Linked DNA regions of Homo sapiens. The protein of the gene in region 2 interacts with the protein of the main gene of each other region in a biochemical or structural test. Each region holds a gene or a part of one and is shown on either strand. Other genes may lie near its edges.

Evidence for each region.
Region 1: of the proteins of PRKAA1 (region 2) and CRTC2, one has a biochemical effect on the other in vitro, tested with the Homo sapiens proteins (one study listed by BioGRID).
Region 3: of the proteins of PRKAA1 (region 2) and EPM2A, one has a biochemical effect on the other in vitro, tested with the Homo sapiens proteins (one study listed by BioGRID).
Region 4: of the proteins of PRKAA1 (region 2) and PSMD11, one has a biochemical effect on the other in vitro, tested with the Homo sapiens proteins (one study listed by BioGRID).
Region 5: of the proteins of PRKAA1 (region 2) and PASK, one has a biochemical effect on the other in vitro, tested with the Homo sapiens proteins (one study listed by BioGRID).
Region 6: of the proteins of PRKAA1 (region 2) and HDAC5, one has a biochemical effect on the other in vitro, tested with the Homo sapiens proteins (one study listed by BioGRID).
Region 7: of the proteins of PRKAA1 (region 2) and PPM1A, one has a biochemical effect on the other in vitro, tested with the Homo sapiens proteins (one study listed by BioGRID).

Annotation. Positions count from the first base shown.
Region 1 is NC_000001.11:153,952,113-153,955,612, reverse strand, and holds part of CRTC2 (CREB-regulated transcription coactivator 2), read left to right. Parts: intron 1-446; coding exon 447-548; intron 549-623; coding exon 624-740; intron 741-1,296; coding exon 1,297-1,358; intron 1,359-2,006; coding exon 2,007-2,075; intron 2,076-2,243; coding exon 2,244-2,347; intron 2,348-2,640; exon of another isoform or gene 2,641-2,714; coding exon of another isoform or gene 2,715-2,733; intron 2,734-2,778; coding exon 2,779-2,808; intron 2,809-2,962; coding exon of another isoform or gene 2,963-2,977; coding exon 2,978-3,042; intron 3,043-3,166; coding exon 3,167-3,216; intron 3,217-3,350; coding exon 3,351-3,500. UniProt on the Homo sapiens protein: Transcriptional coactivator for CREB1 which activates transcription through both consensus and variant cAMP response element (CRE) sites.
Region 2 is NC_000005.10:40,770,875-40,774,374, reverse strand, and holds part of PRKAA1 (5'-AMP-activated protein kinase catalytic subunit alpha-1), read left to right. Parts: intron 1-2,511; coding exon 2,512-2,656; intron 2,657-3,500. UniProt on the Homo sapiens protein: Catalytic subunit of AMP-activated protein kinase (AMPK), an energy sensor protein kinase that plays a key role in regulating cellular energy metabolism.
Region 3 is NC_000006.12:145,634,521-145,638,020, reverse strand, and holds part of EPM2A (laforin), read left to right. Parts: intron 1-2,534; coding exon 2,535-2,776; coding exon of another isoform or gene 2,777-2,862; exon of another isoform or gene 2,863-2,941; intron 2,942-3,500. UniProt on the Homo sapiens protein: Plays an important role in preventing glycogen hyperphosphorylation and the formation of insoluble aggregates, via its activity as glycogen phosphatase, and by promoting the ubiquitination of proteins involved in glycogen metabolism via its interaction with the E3 ubiquitin ligase NHLRC1/malin.
Region 4 is NC_000017.11:32,447,510-32,451,009, forward strand, and holds part of PSMD11 (26S proteasome non-ATPase regulatory subunit 11), read left to right. Parts: intron 1-3,500. UniProt on the Homo sapiens protein: Component of the 26S proteasome, a multiprotein complex involved in the ATP-dependent degradation of ubiquitinated proteins.
Region 5 is NC_000002.12:241,142,973-241,146,472, reverse strand, and holds part of PASK (PAS domain-containing serine/threonine-protein kinase), read left to right. Parts: intron 1-3,398; coding exon of another isoform or gene 3,399-3,440; coding exon 3,441-3,500. UniProt on the Homo sapiens protein: Serine/threonine-protein kinase involved in energy homeostasis and protein translation. Phosphorylates EEF1A1, GYS1, PDX1 and RPS6.
Region 6 is NC_000017.11:44,096,142-44,099,641, forward strand, and holds part of HDAC5 (histone deacetylase 5), read right to left. Parts: intron 1-3,500. UniProt on the Homo sapiens protein: Responsible for the deacetylation of lysine residues on the N-terminal part of the core histones (H2A, H2B, H3 and H4).
Region 7 is NC_000014.9:60,255,721-60,259,220, forward strand, and holds part of PPM1A (protein phosphatase 1A), read left to right. Parts: intron 1-1,103; exon of another isoform or gene 1,104-1,146; intron 1,147-3,243; exon of another isoform or gene 3,244-3,500. UniProt on the Homo sapiens protein: Enzyme with a broad specificity. Negatively regulates TGF-beta signaling through dephosphorylating SMAD2 and SMAD3, resulting in their dissociation from SMAD4, nuclear export of the SMADs and termination of the TGF-beta-mediated signaling.

The DNA.
Region 1 (3,500 bases), on a different chromosome or scaffold from region 2:
TCTACTTCCTGGGCTGAAGTGATCCTTTTTTTTTTTTTTTTTTTTTGAGACAGAGTCTCTCTCTGTTGCCCAGGCTGCAGTGCAGTGGCACAGTCTCGGCTTACTGCAACCTCCACCTCCCAGGTTCACGCCATTCTCCTGCCTCAGCCTCCCGAGTAACTGGGACTACAGGCGCCCGCCACCACGCCCGGCTAATTTTTTGTATTTTTAGTAGAGACAGGGTTTCACGGTGTTAGCCAGGATGGTGTCGATCTCCTGACCTTGTGATCCGCCTGCCTCGGCCTCCCAAAGTGCTGGGATTACAGGTGTGAGCTACTGTGCCTGGCCTAGATATTTTAAAAGCAGTGGCGGCAGCAGCATATCCTGGTGACAGAGATGGCAAGGATGGCTGAAGGAAATAGTGCTCAGGACCCTCCTGACATTCCCACTTGTTCCCCATGTCTCAGTTACAGGCCCAAAAACTGCGACTGGCATACACAAGGAGCTCTCATTATGGTGGGTCTCTGCCCAATGTTAACCAGATTGGCTCTGGCCTGGCCGAGTTCCAGGTGAGTAGACCCCAGCCAGGGAGGAGTGGAGTTTCTTAGGCTGCTTCCTCTGCTGACTTCTGTCCTTTTTGGCAGAGCCCCCTCCACTCACCTTTGGATTCATCTCGGAGCACTCGGCACCATGGGCTGGTGGAACGGGTGCAGCGAGATCCTCGAAGAATGGTGTCCCCACTTCGCCGATACACCCGCCACATATCCTTCACAGGGGACTTGGGAGTGTCTGAAAGGTAGTGGGATGGGGTTCCTCAGGGACTCATAGGAAGCACTTGAAGTGTTGTGCGTCCCTTCCTTCTCTTGGAGCTCTTCTTTACCCAGCTTCCCTGAAAAGCGACCATAGCCCCTGCGTCAGCACCTGCTCCTGTGACAAGGAGTTTTGCTCCTGAGGCTGTGCCCCCTGTCTCTGGCTGGCTCTGGCTGTCTTCACATCAGCTTGCTGCCAGAGGCAAGCCTTCCTTGTCTCCTGCTAAAGGAGATTGGGTCTCTTCTCAGATTTCTAAGTTTTCAGTCTCAGAGACCTGCATAACTGTCTCCTCCAAGCCCTGCCTGAACATTCTCCTGGATTTTTTCAGCCCCTTTAGACCTGATTCCCTTTTTCTCTTCCATTCTTTGATCCTATTGTTGTCCCTTATAGAAGAGGAGAAAGGTATGAGTTTCTTGAAACAACTTATCTGCTGCCTTCATTGTTCTTTCCTCATTTGGCCTCTCTCATCTGTCCTCTCTACTTTTTTCCTTAACTGGTGCTGTTCACATTGACAGCTCTCCCTATAGTCCTGCCTACTTATCTCCTCCCCCAGAGTCTAGCTGGCGAAGGTAAGTGTCCAGGGCGGGCAGAAGCTCCTGCCTACTCTCTGACGTGTTTCTGGAAGGAGTTGCCCCTTCTGGGTTGGGGCTGGGATTACTGGGCTAAGGTTTCAACAGTACCTCTTCCTATAACGCCAGGGCTGAGAGAGGTGGAGACAGTTGGAGTAGGTGGGTCAGAGTCCAGCCTTGGCCATGTTGACACTAGTGGTCAAGCCTCCCAGTCCAGCCAGAGCAGAACCAATGGGAACCATAGCCAGGCTGGGGTGTGTGTGTAAGGGGGAGGGGAGAATGGCAGAGGGGCAGGTGAAAATGGCAACCTTCTGTCAAGGGTGGGTGCAAGATGTAGTGTTCTGGCACTTTTAGATTTCTTAAACTCTCCCCTTGTCCATCTCACTTTCAATGCTCATACCCAGGAATGCTGCTGGGCTCCAAGATTCCCATTCAGCTGGTCCTGGCAGAGAGAAGTTTCCAGCTCTCTTAGATTGACTGGGGGAGGGGTCAATCATAGGCAGGAGAAGAACCAGAAAGAAAAGGGGATGATCTGGGTGCTCAGCCATCTTTACTTCCACCTTAGCTGCCCCACATTTTCCAACCCCTATGCCCACCTTCTTGTCCACTGCCAGCCTTCCTCCTCATGACTTTGTTTTTCTACCCCAGGACGATGGCCTGGGGCAATTTCCCTGCAGAGAAGGGGCAGTTGTTTCGACTACCATCTGCACTTAACAGGTGATGGCTTTTGCCTTCTTTAGGCCAGATCTCTTATCTGTAGTTTCTGGGGCCCTGCTCCCTCACCCCCACCCTGTTCCAGACCAGCTAGTGTTTTCCCTTGCTGGGCAGGGCTTAGGGACCAGGAAGACTGTCACTGGTGTCAGCTCATTCCTGCTCCCCCCATAGGACAAGCTCTGACTCTGCCCTTCATACAAGTGTGATGAACCCCAGTCCCCAGGATACCTACCCAGGCCCCACACCTCCCAGCATCCTGCCCAGCCGACGTGGGGGTAAGTGGCCCTGTCCCAGGGTTGGGAGTAACCATGGAGCTATTTATTTATTTATTTATTTATTTATTATTTCTTTCTTTTTTGAGACGGAGTCTCACTCTGTCGCCTAGGCTGGAGTGCAGTGGCGTGATCTCGGCTCACTGCAACCTCCGCCCTCCGAGTTCAAGCGATTCTCCTGCCTCAGCCTCCTGAGTAGCTGGGATTACAGGCATCTGCCACTGTGCCTGGCTAATTTTTTGTGTTTTTAGTAGAGATGGGGTTTCACCATCTTGGCCAGGCTGGTCTTGAACTCCTGACCTCGTGATCCACCTGCCTCGGCCTCCCAAAGTGCTGGGATTACAGGCATGAGCCACCATACCCGGCCTCCATGGAGCTATTTAAAGCAGGTAGGCAAGTGAGCACTGCAGCCAATGCCACTGTATCCCTTGCAGGTATTCTGGATGGTGAAATGGACCCCAAAGGTATGTGTTCCTCACTGCTGTGGGTACTGAATGCCAAAGAATTTCTGGGCTGGTGTTGGGATTGTGTGCAGGTTCAGGGAGCAGGACTCCTTCCCACCTGCTTCTGCTTCCTGTCCTGCCTTACTGGCTCTTTCTCCAACTCTCCCATCACCAGTCTTTCTCTTTCAAGTACCTGCTATTGAGGAGAACTTGCTAGATGACAAGCATTTGCTGAAGCCATGGGATGCTAAGAAGGTAGGAGGAGGCCACCGGGTGTCACCCACTAGTCTCTCTGCTATCCCCTTGCCATGGGGCAGGCCTTCCAGGGTTCTCTGCTGAGCACTGTCCTCATTTTCCATATTCTCCCTTCTCTCCTCAGCTATCCTCATCCTCTTCCCGACCTCGGTCCTGTGAAGTCCCTGGAATTAAGTAAGTACTCCCTGAGGTTGGCTGAGAGGTGGGGGAAGGAAGTACAGGGAGATGTAGGAGACTGATCTCTGCTCTTCCCTGACCACTGCACCCACCCTCCTATTTACATCTTTCTTTTTCTCTCCTTCCCCTAGCATCTTTCCATCTCCTGACCAGCCTGCCAATGTGCCTGTCCTCCCACCTGCCATGAACACGGGGGGCTCCCTACCTGACCTCACCAACCTGCACTTTCCCCCACCACTGCCCACCCCCCTGGACCCTGAAGAGACAGCCTACCCTAGCCT
Region 2 (3,500 bases):
CATTTTTTTAGTCTGCTGTTATTTGCCTCACAGATATAATAACCTAGTCTGAGGATGGCATTTTAAAAAAAGTCTTCCTCTGTTCCGTCTTGTTCTGTACCTTCTGTGCTCTCTGCATTCATTTTATTCATTTTTGTCTTTGATGCATGGCCCTTCTTCAGATATTTGGTGATTCTTGGCTGTCCACTAAATATTTAAGAATAGGGTATTAAATGCCAGGCTCATGTGGGTAGGACTTACTGATTGCTGGGTTTTCTCATAGCTTGAATAGGTAGGGACTTGTCTGTTTTATTACTGTATACCAAATGCTAATAATAACAAATATGTTTTCTTGGATCAGATATTTGCTCCAGAAGAAACCTTCCCATTTCCTTAAAGGCCTTAGCTTAGCTGCCAGTGCTCCAGGAGCTGAGTGGAGAAAAGAGATGCAAGTCTCACTAGTTAGTATGTTGACTTTGTCTTAGCCCCCATGTTTTCCTTAGGATGCCTTATCCCTGCCTTGGTGTCCTTGAGAGCAGAGCTGGTTCAGCCTTACTAGAGTAAATTATAGGTCTTATTCCCCAATATGGGTGAGTTTAAAAGCTTCTTACTTCAAGCACTTGTCCTGTTTTCAGCTCATCTCTCACTTCTACCTTGAGCAGTTCCCTGTGTTTCCAATTTCTAAGGCTTCCCAGGCTTTGTATGCAGATGTTTATTTTTTACTGGTTTCTACCCCTATAGGCTTAGGTTTTAGCTTTCTCTTGTAGGCTTAGTCTTTATTACTGTTTATCTATTGTCATCCTTGGTGACTCCTCTTGATTACTGCTGTCTCTTTTGTTCTTTTTGTCTTTATATGCCTGTTTTATTGCTGATGTCATTTTAGTGATGTTTCAAGAGTTGGAGACAAAAGATTTAATCTGTTACATTTAATTGGAAATGTATTTTGACTTTTCTAACCTTCCTTTATAGACATCCCTTTCTCCATCCTTTGTAATTGTACTTGTTACTAATACAGTATAATTTTCATTTTTGTAGCCTGTCTATTTTACTTTTTATATTTTGTTTAATCAAGTTTTCTCCTATTTTTTCATATTTGAACAGATACTCTTTTTTTTCCCCATGAACCTACAAATCTAGAAATAAAAGTATTAGAATGCTAAAGGATTAGTATTTTTCTAGAGGAATGGTATCTTATAATAGTTTCTTGTTTCAAAATAAATTACTGATTTGTATTTTCTCCCATATTATCCATGCCCTTTAAGGTGTAAGTCTGGTTTTAGAATGCTAATTTGTGACCTGTGTTAGAGAATTGCATATTGGAGTCCTTCGCCTAGAGGATTAATAGCTTATTTATTAAATATGACTTCTTGGGAGCAGGCATGTCCAAGTAATGGCTGTCACTTATGTTGAAAAAAGTGGTAATAATATATGGATACATAGAGAAGTTTAAAAAAAATACTTCAGGCTGCATGCAGTGGCACATGTCTGTAATCTCAGCACTTTGGGATGCTGAAGCGGTAGATTGCCTGAGCTCAGGAGTTCGAGACCAGCCTGGGCAACATGGCAAAGTCCTGTCTCTATCAGAAATACAAAAATTAGTGGGCGTGGTGGCATGTGCCTGTGGTCCCAACTACTTAGGAGGCTGGGGTGGGAGGATTGCGGGACCCCAGGGAAGCCGAGGCTGCAGTGAGCCGTGATGGCATCACTGCACTCCAGCCTGGATGACAGAACGAGACTGGATCTCAAAATATAGATAAATTTAAAACCCCGCCCCCCCAAAAAAACACAAAAAACAAAAATGAAAAGGTAGTTGCTATGTAAGATTTTTTTTTTAGCAAGCATATTAAAGATAAAATGCTATGATATTTTATTAAATGAATTAAGGTGTTTGTTGTTAAAATGTCTTCTATTTTAGGACATATAGCAACATAGTTGCTTGCTGGTTTATGAATAGTGCTTAAATATTACTTCCTCATGGTCTAAAATAGTGTCCCTCACCCCACTATCACTCACTGCACCTATATTTTGCTTTATTTTTCTTCAAAACAGTATCACTCCTTCTGACTATATTTATTAGTCTATTTTCATCAACTAGATTAGCCTTTGTTTTATTCATTGCTGTGTAATGAGTGTCTAAAGCAATGTGTAGCACGTTGAAGGTATTCAGTAATTTGTTAAAAGAATGAAAGAGTAAACATTTGCCGCTTATAAAAGGAAATATGCCAAATTTCAAGTAGATATTGAAATTATTTGAAATAACTCATGAGATATAGAGGAAGGCAAGCTGTTACAATGTAGTCATATGCAAATGATAATATTAGAAACTTGAGTTACTGATTTGGGTTCCAAGACCATCTTAGCATTTCTGTTTTGTGCTGCAGGTATCTCCTCCTCATGTCAAAAGTATCTCATAAGTGAAGTTCATTGGGAAGATTTTCATGTATTTTGACAATTTTATAGGTTGGAGAATTATAGATAGGACAATTTACTTTGAAAGACACACCTTTAAAAAGCCTCTCTAACTTTTCTTAGCTGGATGAAAAAGAAAGTCGGCGTCTGTTCCAACAGATCCTTTCTGGTGTGGATTATTGTCACAGGCATATGGTGGTCCATAGAGATTTGAAACCTGAAAATGTCCTGCTTGATGCACACATGAATGCAAAGATAGCTGATTTTGGTAAGGATAATTTTATAGTTTCTTAACGTTCATTTCTAATGTTCTTATAGTTTCAATGAACCTACCTAGAATTCTTCAGATAACTGTAAAAGATTACATAAAGTAATAGACTGAGTATATCAAAGTATTCTGTTTTGTCTATGAAGATACAAAAAGAAGAAAAGCTAAGAAATCATCTTTTCTTAGCTTTAAATGTCTTTATTACTATTATTTTATAGAGGCAGGGTTTCGCTTTGTCGCCCAGGCTGGAGGGCAGCGACGTGATCATAGCTCACTGCATCCCCAAACTACTGGGCCAGGTGACCCTCCTGCCTCAGCCTCCTGAGTAGCTGGGACTGCAGGCGTGCACTACCATGCCAGGCTGTTTTGTCTTTTTGTAGAGACAAGTTCTCACTATGTTGTCCAGGCTGCTCTTGAACTCCTGGCCTCAAGTGATCTTCCTACCACAGCTTCCCAAAGTATTGGGATTACAGGTGTGCACCACTGCACCTGGCTCTTTAAATATCTTTAAAATTAAATTTTAAACAACTTAAGTTGGTAGTATTAGAGAGACTATTTGAAAAGAGTATTATTTGTGAAAGAGAAGGTAGCAGCTTTATTTCCAGTATGTTCAAAAGAATCAAGTATGGAGAAGAAGGAAAGTGAGTGGGATGGAATTATTTAAAACCTTAAAAACCAGAAGTGAACTATGTGAATTTAATTATTTAAAATTATTTAAAACAATTTTTTAATTAAAAAAATTTATTTAAAAATTTAAAAATGTTTTAAATGATAGTAAATTATAATTTGTTTAAAGAACATTTTGATTGTTAAAAATGAATTTATTTTGGCTGGGCGTGGTGGC
Region 3 (3,500 bases), on a different chromosome or scaffold from region 2:
TCTATTTCTTGGTTATGTAACGGAAGTGTCCACTTCCCTCTTTTCCAGCTTAGGAGCTTTAGTGTGCTCAGTTGAACCCCAAAGTATACATACGTGAGCCCAGCACTATCACCTCACTAGGCATCCAGCAGGTCCCTGGGTAAGGGATCTTTGAAAGATCTGGAAAGAGGGATGGGACATCTAGTTAGAGGCAGGTCTCACTCAACAGCCAGAGGGAAGGGGCAATCAGCAAGTGGGTGTGACATTTCCCCCGAATACTCAGCTATCCAGGTCCTGATGAAGCTCGGCTCTTGGGCACCCTGCAAGTGTCCTTGCTCAAGGTCTTTCTCTCAGTACACTGGGTCCAGTGGAATATCTAAGAATTATCTGGATCCAGGGATAAGATGAAGGCCTTGGATTTCATGCCTCTCTTTCCATCACCATTAAGTCTTTTGCCATTTCTAACTTTTCTTTTATCATTTTTTTCCCATAATAATCCTCAATAAGGATTTCTGCAAGGAAATTCCTAATAACCCTTTAGACAAGAACACAAGTAGAAAAAAAAAAAAAGTTGTTCTTCTCCTGCAGGGGAAGCAGGGCTCAGGCTTTAGACAGATAGTGCCAGATCTTATGAGATAATTTTCACTGATTATGGGTCATGACCACATTAGAGGATTAGTTAATTGGCTTCTCCTGTTAACATCAACAATGACAACCACCACCAAAAGGAAAAAAGCAAAAAACAAAAAAAGCTAGCTTTCATACAAAAAAATAGGGTATCTTCTACTCTGTAGCATTCAAATGAAGAATATAGGAAACAATGAAGAATTAACTGAATAATCTTTACAATGCAATGCAAAGTAAATTACAAAAATAAGTAAATCACTATAGCTACACATGAAATCCGCTTGCACTTACTGTGCATCCACGGTTTCAGTCCAATTCAGGTACATTAATTGTATTTATTCCTTACAAGATTTTTATGAGTTATTTTTAGACCCATTCTAAAGATGAGTACACCAACAGGTTAGAGTTGATAAATAACTTGGCCTAACATCATACAATTGTTACTAAATGTTATACGAAATCTTTTTTTTTTTTAATTTTTTTTTTTTTTTCAGACAGGTTCTTGCCCCATCGCCCAGGCTGGAGTGCAGTGGTGTGATCTTGGCTCATTGCAACCTCTGTCTCCTGGGTTCAAGCAATTCTTAGGCCTCAGCCTTTCAAGGTAGCTGGGATTACAGGTGTGTGCCACCACGCCCAGCTAATTTTTGTAATTTTACTAGAGACGAGGTTTCTGCCATGTTGGCTGGGCTGGTCTGGAACTTCTGGCCTCAAGCAATCCCCGCCTCAGCCATCCAAAGTGCCAGACTACAGGCGTGAGCCACTGCGCCAGCTTCTTTTTTGGTTTTTACATTTTTCCTTTTGGCTGTTGTTGTCAACATTGTTAACATGAGAAGCCAATTGCCCAGTTCCCTAATGAAGATCCACCACTGTCTTTCTAAAACTTCAGTTCTGCTTACCCTACAGGAGAGAATAAACTTTTTTTTTTTTTAAGAGATGGAGTCTCACTCTGTCACTCAGGCTGAAGTGCAGTGGTGCAGTCTCGGCTCACTGCAACCTCCGCCTCCCGGGTTCAAGCAATTCTTCTGCCTCAGCCTCCCCGGTAGCTGGGATTACAGGTGTCCACCACCACGCCTGGCTAATTTTTGTATTTTTAGTAGAATTGGCCAGGCTTGTCTAGAACTCCTGACTTCAGGTGACCCGCCTGCCTTGGCCTCCCAAAGTCCTGGGATTACAGGTGTGAACCACTGCATCCGGCCAGATAAGCGTGTTTTATGTTTTTTCTCCTTGGGTTCTTGTCTAAAGGGTTATTAAAATTTTTCTGAGTTTTTAACTTTTTCATTTCATTATTTTTTTCTATAATAAACCTCAATGATAATTTCCAAAAGGAAACTATATTGCTATTTCTCCTTCTTACCTTGCAGCATTAGATGAAACCTATAGAACACTGCTAGGTACTAATGGAATTAATGTTGATTCTGATCTTATTAAAAGAAGTCTGTTGTTTTTTAGCTTCTGTTCTTTAGCATATGTTAAAAGTCTCATACTATTTGAAATATTTGCATAGACTTTTAAACCGGAATGCCTGCTGAAATTTGTTTTTCAGAATTTATTTATATAATTACAGGAATTTTCACCTCTAATTTGTTAGCATTTGAAGTCTATTGATGGATTTTTATCATGTGGAACCATATATGCATTCATGGAATAAGTACAACTTGGTAGACTTATTTTAATATATTGCTTGATTTGGTTTGCAAATGTCCATTTCCTGGCGTTCTAGTTAATTGAAATACTTGCTTTCCCCAAAGCAGCAACACCAGTACTTTTTCTTTCAATAATAACATTGGTGTTCATATTCTAAAATATCTAGCTTTTCCTGTGCCAGACTTAAAGGTTAGTTATATTTTAATACTACATGTTTTATGCAGCTCCTTAAACCTCAAATCAGAACAACACTAGTGATAGTTGTCTCCATATGTTCTCATTAGAATTCTACCAAATATCTGGCTGGGTAGCTGCCCTCGTCAGGTGGAACATGTAACCATCAAACTGAAGCATGAATTGGGGATTACAGCTGTAATGAATTTCCAGACTGAATGGGATATTGTACAGAATTCCTCAGGCTGTAACCGCTACCCAGAGCCCATGACTCCAGACACTATGATTAAACTATATAGGGAAGAAGGCTTGGCCTACATCTGGATGCCAACACCAGATATGAGCACCGAAGGTAAGGATCAGAACTGTTCTGCCTCCTTGCTGTATTTCAGAGAAACCCTTGCTGTCTGTCTGTCTATCTATAATTTAATATCTTAAAAATGAATGGTAGAAATGGAATAAATATAAGATTTTAGATTTAATATATATAATACATATGTTTTGACACTGTGGCTAAGATTCTGTTTAATGTGGCTTCTTTGTTTATTCATTCAACACATATTTATTGTGTATGTACTGGGTATGCGGCATTATGCTAGTAGCTAGGAACACAGCAGTAAAGAAAGACAGGCACAACTTCTGCCCCCACGGAGCGCATTGTCCTATAGGGATGGCAAATGTTAATCAAATGACTAAAAATAGAAGTTTAAAACTATGATGAATTTTTTGTTAGAAAATATATAGATATTGCTATGAGATTATGTACAGGTAATCAGGCCAAGAAGTGGGGTCAAAGAGGGTTTTCTTGGAAAGTAGTGTTTGGGCTAAGATCTGAGGGTGGGCTGGAGGAAGAGTGAGTGGAGGGAGTGACCCAGGCAGAAGCAGCAGCTTAGAAGAATCCTTGTGGCAGGAGAGAGCACAGAGTGTTGCAAAAACTGAAAGACCAATGTGGCTTGGATCAGAGAACGAGGAAAGATGATCCTGCAGGATTTGAGCGACAAAAAGGACTTTAGACGCTATCCTATAGCAGGAAGAAGCAGTTGTACAGTAAGACGAGTTCGACACTAATTACAGCA
Region 4 (3,500 bases), on a different chromosome or scaffold from region 2:
TGCATTCATACCTAGGACTTTGTGCACATCATTGCTCAAACATTCTAGTTGTAATTGAACCATTGACTGATTAGATTTGACATAATATTCTGATGATGGGTGTGTCCTTGGAATGAGAAGGGAGTCCTTTTGATCAGGAAGGACCTTTTACCAGTAAAGTGGTAATAGTATTTAGAGAGAAGTCTGTTTAAACTTAAATGGGTGATTTTTGTCAAGTTTAAAGTGAATTTAGAGCTTATTTGATTAGATTGGATTAAGATCTGGTAAGTGACCTCATGAATTATTTTCCCTAAAATTATGTTGTTCAAGAGAATGATGGGGGTTAGTTAGCACAACTTCTTCAACTTGAGAACTAAAGATTTTTTTTTTCTTTTTCTTTTTTTTTTTTTGAGACGGGGTCTTGCTGTGTCACCCGGGTTGGAGTGCAGTGGTGCGATCTTGGCTCACTGCAACCTCCGCCTCCTGGGTTCAAGCGATTCTCCTTCCTCAGCCTCCGGAATAGCTGGAATTACAGGCACGCGCCACCAAGCCTGGCTAATTTTTGTATTTTTAATAGAGACGAGGTTTCACTGTGTTGATCAGGCTGGTCTTGAACTCCTGACCTCATGGTCCACCCACCTCGGCCTCCGAAAGTGCTGGGATTCCAGGTGTGAGCCATTGTGCCCGGCCAGTGATTTTTTTCAATTAAAGATAACTAACTTATTAATTATTAGGCTCAGTCTATAGAGCTGAATAAAGATGTATGAAATTGTGAGGATGTGTTTACATGGGCCTTATATCTTACTTAAAACATCATTAAGTAGCTATAAAAAGAACCATCCATAATGGTTTTTGAGTGCTATGAACTTTTTTTTTTTTAATTATTATTATTTTTGAGACAGAGTTTTGCTCTTGTTGCCCAGGCTGGAGTGCAAATGGTGCGATCTCGGCTCACTGCAACCTCTGCCTCCCAGGTTCAAGCGATTCTACTATCTCAGCCTCCCGAGTAGCTGGGATTGCCAGCATGCGCCACTATGCCCGGCTAATTTTGTATTTTTTTTTTTAGTAGAGGCGAGGTTTCACCATGTTGGTCAGGCTGGTCTTGAACTCCTGACCTCAGGTGATCTACCTGCCTTGGCCTCCCAAAATGATGGGATTACAGGTGTGAGCCACTGCACCTGGCCAAGTGGTTACTCTTCTAAACACATACATGGTTTAACTTAATTGAATCCTCGAAACAACTTGAAGTAGGTTTTGTTACCATTTTACACATGAGGATACTGAGCACAGAAAAGTTAAATAACTTAACAAAGCTCATTCAACTAATAACTGGTAGACCTAGGATTTGAGCTCATGTAGTCTTACTTCAGAGCCCATATAGCCACATGACATCATGGTTATTGCTTTCCTATAACTGTCTACTTAAATGAATTATCATTGGTGGGTGGTGTCTTTTCATCTTAGGCTGACTTCCTTCCTATTTAACATACATAAGGATTCCACTTGTCTGTCAGTTAATTTGAGCTTGGGGGGTTCCAAAACAGTTTTGATAATTACTCCATGCAAAATATAATAAGGTAATTTTTCTGAATTATAAAGCCAACTGAAGTGATGTGAAAATTTTTTTTGTTGTTAGCCAGGCGTGATGGCTCATGCCTGTAATCCCAGCACTTTGGTAGGCTGAGGTAGGAGGATCCCTTGAGCCCAGGAATTTGAGACCAGCTCTGGCAACATAATGAGACCCTGTCTCTACAAAAAATAGAAAAATTAGCTGGGTGTGGTGTTATGTGCCTGTAGTCCCAGCTACTCTGGAGGCTGAGGTGGGAGGATTGCTTGAGCCGAGGAGGTTGAGGCTGTAGTGAGCTATGGTCACACTGCCGTGCTCTAGCCTGGGTGACAGAGCAAGACCCTGTCTCAAAAAAAGATTTTTTTGTTGTTGAAATATCCAAATTTCTACTTTCCTCCAGTGGCATGAATTAAGAACAGTGTGTGGTATATAGTCAATACTTAAGTAATTTTCATCCAAAAATGTTACTGTTTTGCTTGAAATTCCTATTTTATATGTATTCTCCCCTTATTTCTTGCCCTTCCTGCCTTGTGACCTGAGAAGTTTAGAAGTGTACTGCTAAAGCTATTGGAATTTAATAGATGAATTATAAGAACTTTCAAAAACATTTCCATGTTACTTATTGTTTTCTAAGAAAGTTTGATGAGTATAGGTATACACAATGGGAACTCTAAGGAAGTGTTGAGGCCTACATATATTTAGCTGTCTTTGCTATTAATGATATGTTTGTATTGTTTGCTCCTGAGAACAGAAAATATGTCTGTTCCATTAATGTTCAGTTTTTTTATGCATTTAATAAATGCATAGCATTGTGCTAAGTATTCTACTCAAAAATTTAAGATAGGATCCCTGGCCAACAAAAATCACTTGGGGATTACCAAATAAAACAATGTCTGATGTGTAATTGTGATTGCAAGTAGTGTTAGTAGTGTTGAGCATCATCAGACATGATGCCTTGGCTCAGGATTTCATAGCCTAAAACTTCTAAAAGGAATCTGTTGAGTTCTGTGAGGTCCTGCCTCAGGCTCCCAAGTGGCTGGAACTACAGGCGCCCACCACCACCCCCGGTTAATTTCTGTATTTTTAGTAGAGGCGGAGTTTCATCATGTTGTCCAGGCTGATCTTGGGCTCCTGACCTCAAATGATCCACCCACCTCAGCCTTTCAAAGTGTTGTGATTATAGGCATGAGCCACTGTGCCTGGCCTTTTTTTTTTTTGAGACCGAGTTTCATTCTGTTGCCCAGGCTGGAGTGCAGTGGTGTGATCTCGGCTCACTGCAACTTCTGCCTCCTGGGTTCAAGCAATTCTCGGGCCTCAGCCTCCCCAAGTAGCTGGGACTACAGGCGTGAGCCACCATGCTCGGCTAATTTTTTTTTTTTTTTTTTTCTTTTAGTAGAGACGAGGTTTCACCATGTTGGCCAGGCTGGTCTTGGACTCCTGACCTCAGGTGATCCACCCGCCTTGGCCTCCCAAAGTGCTGGGATTCCAGGTGTGAGCCACCGCGCCCAGCCAAGTTCTGTGAGGTTCTGACAAGGAAAATCTGGTCATATAATTACAGATAATCCCAGTAAGAATAGGAGGAAGTCAGTATGATTTTATGGGACTTAAAAAAAAATTAACTCAGTATGTATGAAAGTGGAAGGAAACAGGAAATACAAACAAGAATGAATATAAAACAGTAGTAGACTAAAACAGATGATGAACTGAGTCTGAAAAATGCAGGTGGGCACAGTGGCTCACACCTGTAATCCCAGGACTTTGGGAAGCTGAGGTGGGAGGATTGCTTGAAGCCAGGAGTTATGTGGACCAGTTTGGACCACACAGCAAAGACCCTATCTCTGTTAAAAAAAATTTTTTTTTTTTAAAGCAGCATGGGTAACATAAGGAGACCACATATCTACAAAAAAGATAAAAAAATTGACTGGGTGTGGTGGTGCGTGCCTGTGTCCCAGGT
Region 5 (3,500 bases), on a different chromosome or scaffold from region 2:
CTCCCGCACTCCCTCCCTTTCTTCCCTCCCTTTTTTCTGCCTGTCTCTTTGCCATTGAGAACCATATTGTCCCGAACATTCTGGTGTCTTCTTATCTGTTTGCAAAAATTTCTCTGAAATATAAATCTAAGTGAAAAGTGCTGTATCCATATAGACAAATGTTTCACTTGAATTGTTTTCTAAAGAGATTATATTAATGTATTAAGAGTTCCTGTTGATCCAAATCCTTTTTGACATTGGGTATTACTAGATTCTTCATTTCTGCTGACTTAGTAGGTATAACATCATCATGATTAGGATTTCCTCTCCTGTAAAACGCTTGTTCCTATTTCTTGACATTTTTTATTGGGCCATGTGTCTTTTAAAAATGTTTAAATTTTAAATAGTTGATCTTTTAAAGCTATTCTGGATATTAATTTTCTGTTGGTTATGTATGTGGCAAATATCTTCTCCCAAATTGTGGCTTGTTCTTTCGTTTTCTTTATGGTATTCTTTGTGAAGCTGTGTTCTCATTTTTTTTTTTCTTTTTTTTGGGGGGGACGGAGTCTCGCTGTGTCGCCAGGCTGGAGTGCAGTGGCGTGATCTCAGCTCATTGCAACCTCCACCTGCCAGGTTGTGTCGCCAGGCTGGAGGGCAGTGGTGTCATCTCGGCTCATTACAACCTCCACCTCCCAGGTTCAAGCGATTCTCCTGCCTCTGCCTCCAGAGTAGCTGGGAATACAGGTGTGTGCCACCATGCTCAGCTAATTTTTTTTTTTTTAGTAGAGATGGGGTTTCACCACATTGGTCAGGATGGTCTTGATCTCTTGACCTCGTGATCTGCTTGCCTCGGCCTCCCAAAGTGCTGGGATTACAGGTGTGATGTGTTCTCAATTTTAACGTTAAACTTATTAATCTTATTTTATAGCTAGAGTTTTTTGTGCCTTGTTTAAGAAAACTTTCCCTACCCCAAAGTCTTACAGATAGCCTCTTTTCTCCTAAAAACTTAGTGATTTTATTTTATATTTTATTTGGTTTGACAGGTCTCGCTTTGTTGCCTAGGCTGGCCTCCATCTCCCTGGGCTCAAGCAATTATCCTGCCTTAGCTTCTAGAGTGGCTCGGACTATAGGTGCAGGCCACGAGACCTGCCTGGCTAAAAAGTTTAGTGTTTTGACTTCCACAGATCAGATCTTTTATGCCCTGGGCACCATAGTGAGACCTCATCTCCTAGTTAAAAAAAAAGATGGCCATGTGAAGATACATACAAACAGGGAGAAGTCGGCCGGGCGCGGTGGCTCACGCCTGTAATCCCAGCAGTTTGGGAGGCCGCAGCAGGTGGATCACGAGGTCAGGAGATCGAGACCATCTTGGCTAACACGGTGAAACCCTGACTCTACTAAAAATACCAAAAATTAGCCAGGCGTGGTGGCGGCTGCCTGTAGTCCCAGCTACTCGGGAGGCTGAGGCAGGAGAATGGCGTGAACCCGGGAGGCGGAGGTTGCAGTGAGCCGAAGTCGCGCCACTGCACTCCACCCTGGGCGACACAGCGAGACTCTGTCTCAAAAAAAAGAAACAAACAAACAGGGAGAAGCTCTGTGATGGCGAAGGCGGAGACTGGAGTGACGCAGCTGCAGGTCAAGAACACCAAAGATGGCCAGTATGGCCAGTAGCCACCAGATGCTAGGATAAGGCAAGGAGGGGGGACTCCTTGGAGTTCCATATTGGAAGAGGTGGTGTTGGGAGGGCCACCTCCCCTTTCCTCTTCACCCCAGGCCTGCCTTGTCTTGGAAGGGCCTCGTGTGGGCATCCTGCTAGCTTGTCCAAGCTCGCTATTCCTGGAAGGCTGCTCCTCAGCCAGTTCACGGCTATAGGTGTGCCAGTGTGGGAGGACCTGGGTGGAAAGAGGCCTGTGTGTGTCTTAGAAGTGGGCACCAGACCCTTTGGCTGGGAACTCTGGGGTTCTGGATACCCAGAAGGTGGTCCAGAAGAGGGTATATGGGGTGTGGTTGGGCTTGCCTTGGCCCCAGGGTCTCCTCATTTCGTGGGGGAAACTCCAGCCATGGTTCTGGTATTGGCCACAGCCTCCTCTTGCTGTTTATCTAAAGCCTGGATGACCAGGTGGGGGCTTCCTGCCAGTAGAGGAAATCTTCTTGCTTTAAGGGCTCTTTTTGTTGAGTTTGGCCATGAGGACAGGGTATTGGTAAATGTGTACTTGTGTTTCAAGTGCTTGCCAATATGCAGGATGGAACTCTTAAGTATCTCCACTCTGCAGGGTGGTCACATGAATGTATACATGTGACAAGACTGCATGGAACACGTGCTCACATGCGCGCACACACACACGCTCATGTACACATGTGCACACGCACACACACGCACGGACACACACGCACACCCACACACACACACACCTGCAGGTAAATGCCTTGAAATCTGGACGAGGCTGATGGATGGTATCAAGTCAGTTTCCTGGCTGTGACACTCTCCTGTAAGATGTCACCATGAGAGGGAACTCGGAAGAGTATGTGAGATTTTCCTGTATTTCCACCCTGTATCAGCATTTGAATCATGTATAAGAGAAAAGCTAAAAATACAAATCTCTGGTGCCAGGCCTGTCTCTAGGAGACATGGCCTCTTGGCCATGGCCCCCGCGACCTCACTTGTTGGCAGCACCCAGGTGATTCTGTGCACAGCTGGTCGGATGGTCAGGACTCACTGTTTAGGGGAAAGCTGAGACCATGGGAGCTGTGCAGCCCCCACGTGCTGATGGGTTCATCATGACCTGGGAGTATTTTCAGTTGGTGTGTACCTGCAGTCCCTGCCTTCCCTCATGGCTCCTTCCCACCCTGTTCTTTGTTTTCCTCTCTCTCTCCTTCCCTCTTTCCCATATCTTCCTATGTATTTTTCTTGGAAAGAGCTTCTTTTTTTTTTTCTTTTTTTTTGACATGGAGTCTCTCTCTATCGCCCAGGCTGGAGTGCAGTGGTGTGATCTCGGCTCACTGCAAGCTCTGCCTCCCGGGTTCACACCATTCTTCTGCCTCAGCCTCCCGAGTAGCTGGGACTACAGGCACCCGCCACCATGCCCGGCTAATTTTTTGTATTTTTAGTGGAGACGGAGTTTCACAGTGTTAGTCAGGATGGTCTCGATCTCCTCGATCTCCTGACCTCGTGATCCGCCCTCCTCAGCCTCCCAAAGTGCTGGGATGACAGGCGTGCGCCACCGTGCCTGGCCCGGAAAGAGCTTCTTTTAGCACCACTTTGGGTGGACCATTCTCCCATTGCGGGTTCTGACCCAGGATGGCGGTTGGTGGTGTATGTCTTTTGGGGCCGAGCTGAACTCAGCATTATAAATTAGTTGGTTAAACTGTCTTTGTGTTTTTGCATTGCAGATGTTAATCAGCTTCATGTTGTTTTCTAGTTGTTAGAGTTGGAAGCTTGGCAGTTGGCCTCCCTTCTTCCCATGGAGGACGGGGGCTTAACAGCCTTTGAAGAGGACCAGAGATGCCTTTCCCAGAGCCTC
Region 6 (3,500 bases), on a different chromosome or scaffold from region 2:
GTCTCCAGCCAGGAAGGGGAAGGCAGGATACCACTGCCTGGGAAGGCGGAAGTGAGAGAGGCAGGCCAACCCATTCCTGTTTCTCTTCTACTTCTTTCTCCAAAGAAAGCCCTCACTCTCCTCGCTACAGCCCAGGGAGGTCACGAGGGGCTGGGAAGACTCCTGTGGCAAAGTGGCCCACTCCAGCCCAGGCCTGAGAAAAAAGGACCCCGAAATCCTTCTGGCTACCAGTATCTTCTGCCTTCATGAGCTGGCCTCTCTCCAGACCACCCCCCAGCATTAAGAGGCGAGAGAGGGAAAAAAAAAACAAAAAACAAGTTTTGGTTTTTTTTTGTTTTTTTTTTTTTTGGAGATGGAGTTTTGCTCTTGTCATCCAGGCTGGAGTGCAGTGGCACAATCTCGGCTCACTGCAACCTCTGCCTCCTGGGTTCAAGCAGTTTTCCTGCCTCAGCCCCGCAAGTAGCTGGGATTACAGGCACCCGCCACCACGCTCAGCTAATTTTTTTGTATTTTTAGTAGACACAAGGTTTCACCATGTTGGCCAGGCTGGTCTCAAACTCTTGACCTCAGGTGATCCGCTCGCCTCGGCCTCCCAAAGGGCTGGGATTACAGGCATGAGCCACTGCCCCTGGCCTTTTTTTTAGATGGAGTCTCACTGCAACCTCCGCCTCCTGGGTTCAAGCAATTCTCCTGCCTCAGCCTCCCAAGCAGCTGGGATTACAGGCGCCCACCACCAGGCCTAGCTAATTTTTGTATTTTTAGTAGAAACGGGGTTTCACCATGTAGGTCAGGCTGGTCTCGAACTCCTGACCTCAGGTGATCCACCCGCCTCGGCCTCCCAAAGTGCTGGGATTACAGGCATGAGTGACCACACCCAGCCGAACAATTTTTAAAGAGAAGAGAGGGAGGTGGGAGGTAGGAGGTGGCAAAGGGTGGGCTAAGAGAGGCCCCCACACCTGTTTAGATGGGTCTGGATCTCTCCAGAGAACCTAGCACTGAATGGGTGTCACCAAGGCAGGAGCAAGGCCTGCTGGAGGCCGAGGCCAAGGCCATGCCACCCACATGCCTGGAGTATGGCCTCTGGAACCCCCTGCAGGCAGGGTGGGGTGGGAGAAGGTAAAAGCTCAGCATGATGTAGCAGTCCCCACCAGCCTCTTCTCCCCCAGGCATGGTTGGGAACATTCCTCTGTGGTTTTCCCGCCAGCCATACTGACGACTCTGTGGCCACAAGGCCAGAGCCACATGTGCAGAAGTGGCCAGATGTGGCCAGAGGGTGGGGTTACACATACTCATCTTCATTCCCAACCCATGTCCTGCCCCAGCACCAGGAGAAAGGGTCCTTGGAAACTGCAGAAGGCCTTCCTGGAGGTAACTAGCCACAGCCCACGATGGTGGCAAGGAAATGGCAGCCAGCTCAGGTCTCCCCAGCCCGTGAAGTGCTCAGCAAGGCCCTGAGCTGGCCGGAGGGTTATCTGTTCTTAGTCAAGCTTGGCTTGGCCCGTGGCACTCTGATCACTCAGCCAAGCAATGGACAGCCGTCAACCTGCTGCTCCCGGCAATGCCGGGGTTGTAGGAGCCAGATTCCAGCCTGCCTGCCCAGGGAAGGGCAGAGGTCCAAGCACTCCTGGCTCCCAGCAGATAACCCTGCCTAGGGCTGGAACTGTCGCCAGCAGTACTGGCTTCCCTTGCAGGAGCCCTGCAGAGAGCACATGGGCTCAGGCAAGGGGAATCTCCCACCAGCCTGTCACTGCCACTGCAGCAGCAGAGATGTTAGGCCCGGAGCTGCAGCGGGAACCACAGCCCTATTGGTATGCAGGTGGCAGGGCAGGCAGAGGGCTCTGCCATGCAGCCTCGTTCCCATGCAAACAGGAAGCACAGGCGACTCCAGAATATTAATTTGCAGGACCTGCAGGGACTGGGTGACATGCAGCACCCCAGGGGTTTGCCAGGTAGCAACCTGCTCCACCCAAAGTGGAAGGGGCCATGGCTACTCTGCCTGAGTCAGGGAAAGGAGGGGCATGGAGCCCCATGAATAGAGTCTGCCCAGGCACAGACCCTGGAGCCTGGCGGGCCTTGCACTCTCTCAAGGATCTGTGCCCTCTGCCAGCCTGGCATGAGCAGAGCAGGTGGCAGCAGTTGCCATCAGCACCAAGCACCTGGAAGGGGAAGTGGTTGTGTCATGATAGGAAGAGGCTCTTGGCCGCCTCCTGGTGGACTAGGAAGGCTGGGGAACCTCTGGGAAAAGAAGAGGATAGACAGGCCCGGGGCGTGGTGGCCAGTTACCCAGGGCTGTCTCTTAAAAAAAAGGGAACCTGGGCCAGGCGCAGTGGCTCATGCCTGTAATCCCAGCAGTTTGGGAGGCTGAGGCGGGCGGATCACCTGAGGTCAGGAGTTCAAGACCAGCCTGGCCAACATGGCAAAACCCCATCTCTACTAAAAAATACAAAGATTAGTTGGGTGCGGTAGCGGGCACTTGTAATCCCAGCTACTCAGGAGGCTGAGGCAGGGAGAGTTGTTTGAACCCAGGAGGCAGAGGTTGCAATGAGCCCAGATCATGCCACTGCACTCTAGCCTGGGTGATAGAGCGAGACCCTATCTAAAAAAAAAAAAAAAAAGAGGGTAGACGAAGGGGCACTGTTCCCTAAGAGGACAGGCCAAGAGCTCTGGCTAGCAAAGAGCCCCACTGAAAGGCCAGGGAGAGCCAAGCGTTGGTGGCTATAATCCCAGCATTTTGGGAGTCCGAGGCGGGAGGATCACTTGAGGTCAGGAGTTCAAGACCAGCCTGGCCAACATGGAAAAACCCCATCTTTACTAAAATTACAAAATTAGCCGGGTGTGGTGATGCATGCCTGTAATCCCAGCTACTCGGGAGGCTGAGGCAGGAAAATCACTTGAACCCGGGAGGCAGAGGTTGCAGTGAGCCAAGATCGCGACATTGCACTCCAGCCTGGGCAACAAGAGTGAAACTCTGTCTCAAAAAGAAAAAAATGAAAAGAAAAGAAAGCCAGGGAAAGGTTCACAGGGGAGGACAAGGACCTGGGTCCTTCCCTCACCTGCCAGGACTTCACTCTGATGGGAATCGAGAGGCCAGTAGAGCCACCTCCTGCAGAGGTCAGAGGCAAGGCTCTGGGGGAAAGCCTTGGGCCCCCCGCACCCAGCTCTATACTTTCCTCTTTCCCAGCACTGAGAACCTTCCTTCTCCTGGGAGTGGTGGCCTCAGTAACAAGCAGCAGCACCATCCTGACCTCTGGTTTTCTGCAGGGCTGACCACCCTGCCTCCATGGGAAGTCCCAGCCTGGGTTGCTGAGTGGGTGGGGCTGTGTGTGTTTCGTTTTTTCTTTTTTTTTTTTTGAGACGGAGTCTCGCTCTGTTGCCCAGGCTGGAGTGCAGTGGCGCGATCTCGGCTCACTGCAAGCTCCGCCTTCCAGGTTCACGCCATTCTCCTGCCTCAGCCTCCTGAGTAGCTGGGACTACAGGCACCCGCCACCACGCCCAGCTAA
Region 7 (3,500 bases), on a different chromosome or scaffold from region 2:
ATGTTATTTTTTCTGAACCTGGATATTTAAGTGTGAAGATTATACAAATCTGAAGTGTGGCAGTGTTCTTATATTGATGTAGAAGACTAGGTTGACTGATCCTGGACCTACAAGCTTCATTTTAACTTCCTACATTTTGGCTTTGAGGGTTAACAGGACATTTATAATCACATATCTCTTTTCAGAGTATTTTACATTTGCAAATATTATCATGAACTTTGTGTCCTTTTAACCAGAGAGGAATTGTGGAATCACAGGAATTAGATGATGTGTTAAAGAAGAGAGATAACTATCAGCTGATTTAATTTGAACCCAACAAGTATCTAATAATATGCATACTCTGTGTTCAAATAAACCTCTAAGCTAGACTTTCAAGCTTATCAAAATGCTAGACTATTTTCAGTGTTTAGAAAATACCAGCCAGGTGTGGTGGCTTATGCCTGTAATCCCAGCACTTTGGGAGGCTGAGGCAGGTGAATCACAAGGTCAGGAGATGGAGACCATCCTGGCCAACATGGTGAAACTTTGTCTCTACTAAAATACAAAAAATTAGCCAGGCGTGGTGGCACGGGCATGGTGGCCACCCGCCTGTAGTCCCAGCTACCCAGGAGGCTGAGCAGGGGAATTGCTTGAACCCGGGAGGCACAGGTTGCAGTGAGCCAAGATTGCATCACTGCATTCTAGCCTGGCAACAGAGCAAGACATCGTCTAAAAAAAAAGAAGAAGAAAAAAGAAAATACATAGTAAAATTTATTGGCTTTTTAAATGGATAATTTCATATAGTCAGTCAGTGCCGGCTTAGATCCATTTGTTAGAGAACAATGCTAATGAGACCTCTTGATACTTTGTGTTCCTCTTATGTTTTCCTAGCCTTGACGTTAGCAACTAACAATGATAACTAACATTATTGAGCTCTTATGTGCCAGGGACTATTACAATAGATTTTCAATTATTATCTCATTAAATCTTCATAGCAGCCCTATGAGCTAGATACTGTTACTACCTATATCTTAACAGATGAGGAAATTTGAAACAGAGCAGTTATTTGCCAAGAGTTTCAGAGCTATTAACAGAAGCCTAATACATGTTCTTGGACTTTGCAGAAATAATTTGTTGATCCATGCGGTTTCATTGCTACTGCGGAAAGTAAGTCTCTTGGCCATTGTGATGGGTCAAAATCTTTGTACATGAAGGGTATGACTGTTGTTCCATTGTATCCAGAGAGTGAATCTTGTGATTGAGTTGGGATTTGAGGTGGCAGTGTATACTAAGTTTGAAAAGTATATTATCATATGTTAGCTCCCTTTAGAAATTTTCCCCAAGAAGAGCTATTACATTTTTTAATATTAAAAAAGCATAAGATATGGCCATAATACAATTAGTTCCACAAGCCATACACACTTTTTTCTTATGGCTTAAAATTTTATTCATGTTTACTACTTTGCAACCCACTGATATAAATTATTTCACAGATCCTTTATTCAAATGAAATTCTCAGTGAGTCTGAGAAGATAGTCTTAAACACAAGCTAGCTGAGTTTACAATAGAGATTATACTATAAATGGTAACTTCAATGTTTATTGAAAATAAATTCCTTAAAAACAGGTCTTGTTTCATTCATTTAAAGAGATTATCAATATATGACTGTTAAATTTTTATAGTCTCCCTGTTCATTTTCTGATGAACACATGACAGAAAATTGAATGTGAGCTGGAAATACAGCAGACTATGAGAAAGCATGGGTCATGTATAATCACTTTAAATTTAGGCTGGTGTTTTGTATTCATCTATAATATGACCACCTCAGGGAGGGATGTAAGTAAACATTCTTTTTTTAGTTATACTTTAGGTGGCTTAATTATTTTAAAGAATATGTTATTCAAGAATTGTCTATTGTACTGTTTTAAAGAATAAGAATATAATTCATTACCAACTTTGAATGTCTTGGATTCTTAGTACTACCTTTTTCTTTATCATGACTAGTAGGATCACATCATAATTTGGTACTGTGTGTATAAAGATGAAGTGTGCTTACCTTTATTACCAAAATTCAGAAATGAAAATGTGAATGATAAAAGATAAGGGATGGCTATATATTTTTTTGTTTTTGTTTTTCCAAACAGAATCTCATAACTTACCAGGCTTTAGAAAAACATCTTTGCAGTATGCCATCATACCTCAGAATGTTAAGTAGATAGGAAATAAAATTTTCACTTTTTGTAAAGCAGTAGGGTATTATCCTTTCTGACAGCCTGTAAGACTGTTTTGGTTGCCAAGGGGCCAATCTTAGAAGTGGCAGTTTTTGTTTTGTGACCAACCCACAGCTTACCCTTTGTTAGTCCATATCTGTCATCTTCATTTTCTCTTTCTGCGTAAATGCTTCTTGATACAGTAAGCAGGTGTTTCAACTAGTCAGCCATCTAGTGTGATCTTTTCTGGTTTGCTACAGTCAGTAAAATAAGTAGCTCTATAAGTGTAAATAGTATTACTTGTTTTATGTAGTAAAACTCCAAGATTAAGTTAGAGATATTTTTGGCTAGACTACATTGAATGCATTGACAATGGATTTCCCAGCTCCCAGAAATTCGTTTGTGTCTGAATTACTTTATACTTGGCTTATTGTGTAGAGAAAACTTTAGAAAAAGTTCATCCATCCATGAATGTTGAATGAATGAGCAGATTAATAAATAAATAGCTCAGGGAAAGAAAATGTGTGGGCTTTTAGTCATAACTATGTTTTTTCTCTTTTGTTCCCTTCCTTATGTGCCATTTTTCAATAATGGGAGTGTGTATCTAATGATGTTGATAAACTTTTTAAAGTCATTGATGAACAGTAATCTGAAAATCAAGTTTTGATTAAGCCGTAGATTTCTTTTAGGGTCCAATATTTTCTTTTTAGAAATCCACTATGATATTTTTGTAGGGATAAAAGACAACCATGTATTCTATAGATGGAAAATGGTAGGATACAGTTTGTTGGCCGGCCAACTTCTCTGAAAATACTTTTTCCTGCATAGAAGATAATCAGTGTTGACAAGGGAGAAGCCAAGGTATAATGGCTGTTATTCATCTGTCTCATGTATTCGTCAAGTGTCATGTGTTAAATATGAACAAAAAAGACATAATCTCTTTCCTCCTGGATCTTAAAATCTAAAGTGAGAGATAATTCACCAGATAAATGCTGCGATAAGGGAAATAGAGGATTCTATGAGCTTATGACTAAGGATAGATCTGTTTCCTCAGATGTGGAACTAAGAAGTGGCAGTAGTTGAGAAGTTCATTTTGGGCCATGCGATTTGAGGTGTGGCTATTCAAGTATAGGAGGTAGGTGGTTACACATTTTTTAAGCTATTAAATAGAACTTTCACTTGAAAAGGTTTTTTTCTCTCTTTCCTCAGCATCTATCTCCCTACATACACAAAAAAATTGCATGTCACAATTCATGAACTCAGTGAGTGACTCTATTTTGAAAAATGTTAGATTATATCAACTGAAGTCTG